Homo sapiens: one gene and its partner. The protein of the gene in region 2 purifies or fractionates together with the protein of the main gene of each other region. This does not show direct contact. Each region holds a gene or a part of one and is shown on either strand. Other genes may lie near its edges. The genes, in order: GTPBP1 and RAB17.

Region 1 (3,815 bases), on a different chromosome or scaffold from region 2:
CTCAAACTCCTGGGCTCAAGGGATCCTCCCATCTCAGCCTCCCAAGTACCTAGGACCACAGGCGTGCACAACCATGCCTGGCTAATACTAATTTTTTTAGAGACGAGATCTTGCTATGTTGCCAAGGCTGGTCTCAAAACTCTTGGCTTGAAGTAATCATCCCACCTTGGTGCCTCCCAAGGTGCTGGGATTACAGGTGTGAGCCACCGTGCCCAGCCAAGTATATATGTTTAGTTTGGTTTTTTTTTTTTGTGGCTGAATCACTTAAAAATAGTGGACATGTCTTCATCCCAGACAAAGTCACAATGTAGACATTGTGACTTTTCACTGCTAAACACTTCAGCATACAGCTCCTAAAAGTGAGGCCTGTCTCCTACTGTTTTTACAATCAAGAAAATGAAGAATAGTTACCTAATATCCTCAAATATTTAGTCTGTATTTATATTATTTCAGATGTTTCCCAAATATCTTTCAGCTGCTTTTTTTAAGCCATGAATCAGTCACCAGTTATCCCCCACTGCCTTTTATTTTCTTTCTTTCTTTTTTTTTTTTTTTTTGAGACGGAGTCTCGCTCTGTCGCCCAGGCTGGAGTGCAGTGGCGCGATCTCAGCTCACTGCAAGCTCTGCCTCCCGGGTTCATGCCATTCTTCTGCCTCAGCCTCCCAAGTAGCTGGGACTACAGGCGCCCGCCACGATGCCCAGCTAATTTTTTGTATTTTTAGTAGAGACAGGGTTTCACCATGTTAGCCAGGATGGTCTCGAGCTCCTGACCTCATGATCTGCCCGCCTCGGCCTCCCAAAGTGCTGGGATTACAGGTGTGAGCCACCGCGCCTGGCCTTTATTTTCTTTGAGATGGAGTCTCACTCTTGCCCAGGCTGGAGTGCAATGGCGCAATCTTGGCTCACTGCAACCTCCGCCTCCTTGGTTCAAGCGATTCTCCTGCCTCAGCCTCCTGAGTAGCTGGGATTACAGGCAACTGCCACCACATGCAGCTAATTTTTTTTTTTTTTGTATTTTTAGTAGAGAAGGGGTTTTCACCATGTTGGCCAAGCTGGTCTCGAATTCCTGACCTCAGGTGATTCACCCACCTTGGCCTCCCAAAGTGCTGGGATTATGGGCATGAGCCACCATGCATAGCTGAACACTCACCTCTTTTTATGATAGCATTCTATATGCAACTTACTTTTTTTTTCCCCTTAAAAGCATATTTTGGAGATTAGTCCATATCAGTAGATAAAAATTTCTTCTTTTGTACAGCACATTTCATACACGTGCCCTGATTTATGTAACCAGTCCTTACGGTGATATTTGGAAACATTTATTGTTACTGGAAGGATAGTAATAGTAATAACAGGTGCAATTGCTTAAACACCTAGTTCCTGCTAGTTGTGTGCTGGACACTTCATGTGTGTTGTGACATTTAAACATCAAGTGACCCTCTGAAGTGGATATTGTTATCTCCCCATTTTACAGATGGGGAAACTGAGGGCCAGTGATGTTAAGTTGAATCCACTTTTTGTTGTTGTTGTTTATGAGACACAGTCTCGCTCTGTCACCCAGGCTAGAGTGCAGTAGCTCGATCATGGCTCACTGCAGCCACAACCTCCCAGGCTCAAGTGATCCTCCCACCTCAGCCTCCCAAGTAGCTGAGACTACAGCGTATCCTGCCACACCCAGTCAATTTTTCTTTTTTTTGTAGGGTGGGGGAAACAGAGTTTCGCTCTTGTTGCCCAGGCTGGAGTGCAATGGCACGATCTCGGCTCACCACAACCTCCACCTCCCAGATTCAAGCGATTTTCCTGCCTCAGCCTCCTGAGTAGCTGGGATTACAGGCATGTGCCACCACGCCTGGCTAATTTTGTATTTTAGTAGAGACAGGGTTTCTCCATGTTGTTCAGGCTGGTCGCGAACTCCCGACCTCAGGTGATCCGCCTGCCTTGACCTCGCAAAGTGCTGGGGTTACAGGAGTGAGCCACCGTGCCCAGCCTTAATTTTTGTATTTTTTTGTAGAGACGGAGGTCTTACCAGGTTGTCCTGCCTGGTCTCAAACTCCTGGCCTCAAGTGATCTGCCTTCCTTGGCCTCCCAAAGTGCTGGGGTTACAGGCATGAGCCACTGCTCCTGACTTGGATTCATTTTGATGGCTCAGGACAGTTGTTTCCCTGACTGGGTTTATCTTTTTTATTGTTTGCAAGTCTCCTCCGATTTTGACGCCCCACATCATCGAGTCAGGGGTTAACGTGATTTTTGCCCAGCCCAGCTTTCATCCACATCTGCTTTTGAGCCCCTGTGTCCACCCAGCAGCAATCTCTTTCTCTCTCGTCCTGACACTTCCTTTCTGTGTTGGGGCAGGTGGGCAGCAATGCTGGCATCGTGGGGATGACCAAAGAACACCTGGGCTTGGCACTGGCACTCAATGTACCTGTCTTTGTGGTAGTCACCAAGATTGACATGTGTCCTGCCAACATCCTGCAAGGTAAGTGAAGCCTCCAGCTAGCAGCAGCCCCTCTGATTGGGGCTGTCACCTGCTGTGCCTTCAGGTGGTCTGCTACCACGGCTTTAGCCCAGAAACTTCTTTTCTTTTTTATTTTTATTTTTTTATTTTACAATATGTTTATTTTTATTATGTGCTCTACATTGAACACTTCAGCAAAGAAAATAATTATAATAATTTCAAAATGCAATCCCTGGATCCAATAACTATCCTTTATAATCCGTTACACTGGTCAGTATCTAGAAATATATGTAGACAAAGTTAGCTAATGAATAAAATAAGTAAAATGACTAGGTAAACTATAAATTTCAAGCATGAGGGATCATGCATGATCAGTTAAGTCACTCTGCCACTTTTTAAAATAATATTCACATTTGCTTCAATCACATAAACATTCATTGCAGGAGTTAAATTTGACTGCTGATAACAATTGAAAGCTGTGATCTTTGTTAGCTTAAAAGAAAATTCAGCTTAATACAAAGACATTCAAGATGAAAATTTCAGGACCCTTGATCAGAAGCTTTCAATGTGTGTTGCTCCACTTTGTTGTAGGCAAGCTTCAAGTAAGGCTAAGACAGAAGAGTGTTTCTACTGAAGATGTGATCTAAGAATTGCCTTCTACAGAGGCGAATTATATTCTGTAGAAACTAGCTAGCCACCAAGATGTTACCAATAAAGGATTCCTTATACTAGCAACTAACCATGTTTAAAAGGCCTTAGCCATTTAGAGTAATATTTATGAGTACAAGCATAATTGGTTCCTTGCCTTCTACAGATAATCATCTATAAAATGATAAAAGCAGGCTTCAACTGTGTTTCTTCTCTGGGGTGAGAAGGTGCAGATACACATGGGTGATCTACTGATTTACCTTCTGAAAGTACTCTTTGGAAGCAGCTGGATTTGGCTTGATTGTAGGAGAATCCAGTGTCCAGTTTGCTGGGCAGACTTCTCCATGGGTTTCTACATACTGGAACGCCTTCACCAAGTGGAGGGTTTCTTCCACGCTTCGGCCCACTGGGAGGTCATTGACGCTCAAGTGCTTGATGACTCCATTGGGGTCAGTTATGAAGAGACCTCTTAGTGCAAGACCAGAACCTTCTAACAGCACACCGTAGTCTCAGGAAGTTTGCTCAAATCTGACAAGAGTGGGATGTTCATGTGGTCCAAACCACCATTATTTCTTGGTGTATTTATCCAGGCAAGATGACTAAAGTGGGAATCCACTGAGACCACAACTTCACAGTTCACATCATGAAATTCCTTAGCTTTGTCACTAAAAGCAACAGTTTCTGTAGGACCACGAAGGTGAAATCCAAAGGA
Region 2 (3,769 bases):
GTGTGTGGGTGCAAGTGAGAGTGAATGTGGGGGGTGTGCATGTGTGTAAATGCATGTGGGCGTGTAGAGGTGTGTGTGCACATGTGTAAGTGTGTGCGTGTGTGGGTGTGCGTGTATGAAAGTGTGAGTGCCAAGGTCTTGACACAGGCGGGCAGGGCTCTCTCCTGCTGTGGAAGAGCAGAGCAGGGTCTCCTGGGCGGTACCTGGAAGGTCACCTCCCGCTCCTGGCTGAGGTCCGTCTTGTTGCCCACCAGCATCACCAGGACTTCTCCTGGGTGCAGCTCCTCCTCCAGGTCCTTCAGCCACTGCTGAGCCTTGAGGAAGGAATCCTAGAAAAGAAGAAAAAAAGTAACATCAAACAAAACTTATAGGTGGTCATTAGCTATTCCGGGAGGGGGAAGCCAGTGTTGCTGATCACGTTGTGTAAAATGTCACAGAATCCAACTGGCCATGGGCGCACCTGCAGGGCTGCTCCGTTCCTCTGAGGAGGGCACGTTCCTGTCCTGGGTGACCTGTGCGGCCAGGCAGAAAACTGCTAGGACACACATCAGATCCTTCACCCTGACCAGGCCCAGGAGACTGCCAGCCACGGGGTATTTCAGGTCAGGCCTCGAGCTCCTGAATCTCCCACGCCTAGCTGTCCTCAAAGGACCACTTTGTGCAAGAGAGTCTGGGGGACTGGCCACCACCCCAAACCCTGACCCTAATGCAGCACCAGGAACTACTGAGTGGCAGATGGCAACGGCATGTTCTTTGTGGACCACGGAGGAGCAGAACCCCACTGTGGAGGAGGATGGGGGGTTGTCAGGAGGCCATCCTGGAGGAGGTGACTGTTGCTCACTAATGGAGTCTCTGTTCCTTGTGATTACGCCATGGCATCATTGCACTGGAGAAACCAGAAGGCAGGTGCTTGGGAAGGAGGGTGGGACGTGCCTCAAGGCGGGCCCTACCTTCCTGGTGATGTCGTACACCAGAAGCGCAGCGTTGGCACCCCTGAAGTAGAGGTGGCAGACGCTGTGGTACTTCTCCTGGCCAGCTGTGTCCCAGATCTCAAGCTTCAGAGAGGTGGCACCCACATCCACCACCTTTGTGAAGAACGCACCTGAAACAGGGAGGCCCAGAGGGCTTACTCAGAGGACGAGGTTGCCACATGCGGCTCAGGTGGGACCACGGCAAGCCGCAGGCACAGCAATGGGCTCAGAGGGACAGCTGGCCATGCATCTCCCACGCCCGCATGGCCAGGAGGTTGAGCAAACAGTTCTTCTGGGAGATGGAGCCTTCCACATCGAGCAAAGTGTTGGGAGTGATTGCTATGGGGCCTTTGGAGAGGCTTTGGATGGGAAGATAAATCTCTCCAGGACCTAATACAAAAGCTCTGGGCTACATATGCCGTGAAAGGGATCTCCACTTACTGGGAGTCCGATGCATCCCTGCCAGCTTCCAGCGATGCAGCTGGGCTCTGGGAACCCCTAGAGCCCTGGGCACCCCCGGCCTACCGGCCCCTCGCCTGCCAGACCCATCTTGCACAGAGGCAGTCACGATTGCATAGGCTCCTCCAAGGCCTTCCTCGCCTCCTGCTAACCTCCCCACTTTCCCAATGCTGCTCCCCACCAACACCCTTCTCTACTGTCCCCTCTGCATGGTATCCTTCCTCTTGTTCACCTAGAAAACTCTTAGGCATCCTCTGAGATCTTCCAGCGGCAACCCCGGAAGGGCTGCTGGGCCCCCTGCCTCCACGGAAGCCTCCCTGCACCCCATACACACCCAGAGGCAAGGCCTCCTGCGTTCTCCACCTGTCTCCCCCAGGAAGGCAGGGGCTTTGTCTTACTCAGCCATGTACCTGCTTAACACACACACACACACACACACACACACACACACACACACAACTACTCCCAAGCACTTTAACATATTGGGCAATGCACTGTTCATTTAAAGATTTTCTACCCTTTGCTTTCCAAAGTTATATGATTTTAAAATGGTTATTTTATAGATCTCCAAAATGTTTTGCCCCATTGTGTGTGGCTTGTCAGGAATGTGTTATACACAGAACTGGAGAGGACGGGGCGGGGGAAGGCAAGGTGTCTGGGGCATGGAGGAGCCACCAGCACCGACAGGCTCCTGTCAAAGCTGCTACCCTGCCTAGACCCTGGATTGGGTTTGGGGTCTGTTGGGGAGATTCTGGCAAATGGAGCCACATGTTTAAAATAAAAACTTACACTCCAAGGACAGTGCATGAGTGTCCTGCGGCTGCCAAAACAAAGTCCCATGAGCCGAGTGGCTCAAATTAGCAAATTTCTTCCTGCAGTTCTGGAGGCCAGAGGTCCAAAACTGATGCGTTGGCTGGGTTGGTTCCTTCCGGAGACTGAAGGAGAATCCATTCCAGGCCTCCTCCAGCTTCAGGGGCTGCCGGCAACCCTGGTGTTCCTGGTGGCTGCATCACCCCCATCTCTGGCTCTGTCTTCACGTGGCTGCCCCTCTGTGGCTGTGTCCTCTCCCCTTCTTATAAGGATGTCAGTCACTGGACTTAAGGGCTATCCTAAGTTCCATCTTGTTGGCCTTAATTAATTACATCTGCAAAGACCCTCTCTCCAAATAAGGTCGCACTCACAGGTTCCGGGGGTTAGGACTTAATCGCCTCTTTACGGGTGGGAGAAACTCAATTGCACCCACTAGACAGAGAACAGGAGGCTGGACAGAGAACAGGAGGCTGGACAGAGCTTTCCAGCATGGTGCAGCAAGACCGTGCTTCTCTATCATGAGACAACCTCTTCCTAAACGGAAACCACTGCCTGGGCTCTTCTGCCCGCATGTCCTGCAGTTCCCTGCAGGTCCAGGAACTTGAAGTCAGACCAACTCCCCAGGTCAAACAAAGCTGCAGTCTCCATCCAGACAGTAGGACCAGTGATTTCCAGCTTAGATGGGGCAACTGTCGGGACTGAACCGGCTATAAACCTCTGAACACACCAGATGCTCCACTGGATTGACAATGGTGCCAGAATGAAGACCGTGCCCAGAATATAAATGTACACCCATCAGCTGATCTGATGGCAGCTTGCTTAAACTTTCTAAGTCTCAGCTTCCTCATCCATAGCAGGAGCTAATGGTGCCCTTCACCCAGGGTGGCTGTTAAATCGCCTGAGCAAGGAGAGAAAGGGCATATGAATTTTGCTTCTTCTTTCTGTCCTCTTTGCTCTTTGTGGACTTGTTGTCTTAAAACGTGGGCCTTTTATCCACATCTTTCTGTTTCCCATCACTTCAAATCACATTTCTCAGTTTGAATTTGGTTTTATCTTAAAAGCTGGCGCAGGGTGAAACGTGAGCATAAAATTCAGGTTTTCTTCCTCCATTTACCAATCTTAGCCTCTCATATTTTCCTTTTCCATGTTGAAAATGATGGCTGGAGGCTGGGCACAGTGGCTCATGCCTGTAATCCCAGCACTTTGGGAGGCCGAGGTGGGTAGATCACTTGAGGTCGAGTTCAAGACCAGCCTGACCAACATGGTGAAACCCTGTTTCTACTAAAAATACAAAAATTAGCCAGGTGTGCTGGCATGCCCCTGTAGTCCCAGCTACTCGGGAGGCCGAAGCAGGAGAATCGCTTGAACCCAGGAGGTGGAGGTTGCAGCGAGCCAAGATTGTGCCACTGCACTCCAGCCTGGGCAGCAGGAGACAGAGTGAGACTCTGCCTCAAAAAAAGAAGGGGGGGGAGGAGGGGAGGGAAAATGATGGCTGGTGGTTGAATTTACACTAATGTAAAATTCCAGCA

What was found.
Region 1: the proteins of RAB17 (region 2) and GTPBP1 purify together in Homo sapiens (affinity purification with mass spectrometry; 3 studies listed by BioGRID and IntAct, with this or other methods). This does not show direct contact.

What each region holds. Positions count from the first base shown.
Region 1 is NC_000022.11:38,719,390-38,723,204, forward strand, and holds part of GTPBP1 (GTP-binding protein 1), read left to right. Parts: intron 1-2,352; coding exon 2,353-2,476; intron 2,477-3,154; exon of another isoform or gene 3,155-3,815. UniProt on the Homo sapiens protein: Promotes degradation of target mRNA species. Plays a role in the regulation of circadian mRNA stability. Binds GTP and has GTPase activity.
Region 2 is NC_000002.12:237,577,054-237,580,822, forward strand, and holds part of RAB17 (ras-related protein Rab-17), read right to left. Parts: intron 1,103-3,769; coding exon 951-1,102; intron 330-950; coding exon 204-329; coding exon of another isoform or gene 1-203. UniProt on the Homo sapiens protein: The small GTPases Rab are key regulators of intracellular membrane trafficking, from the formation of transport vesicles to their fusion with membranes.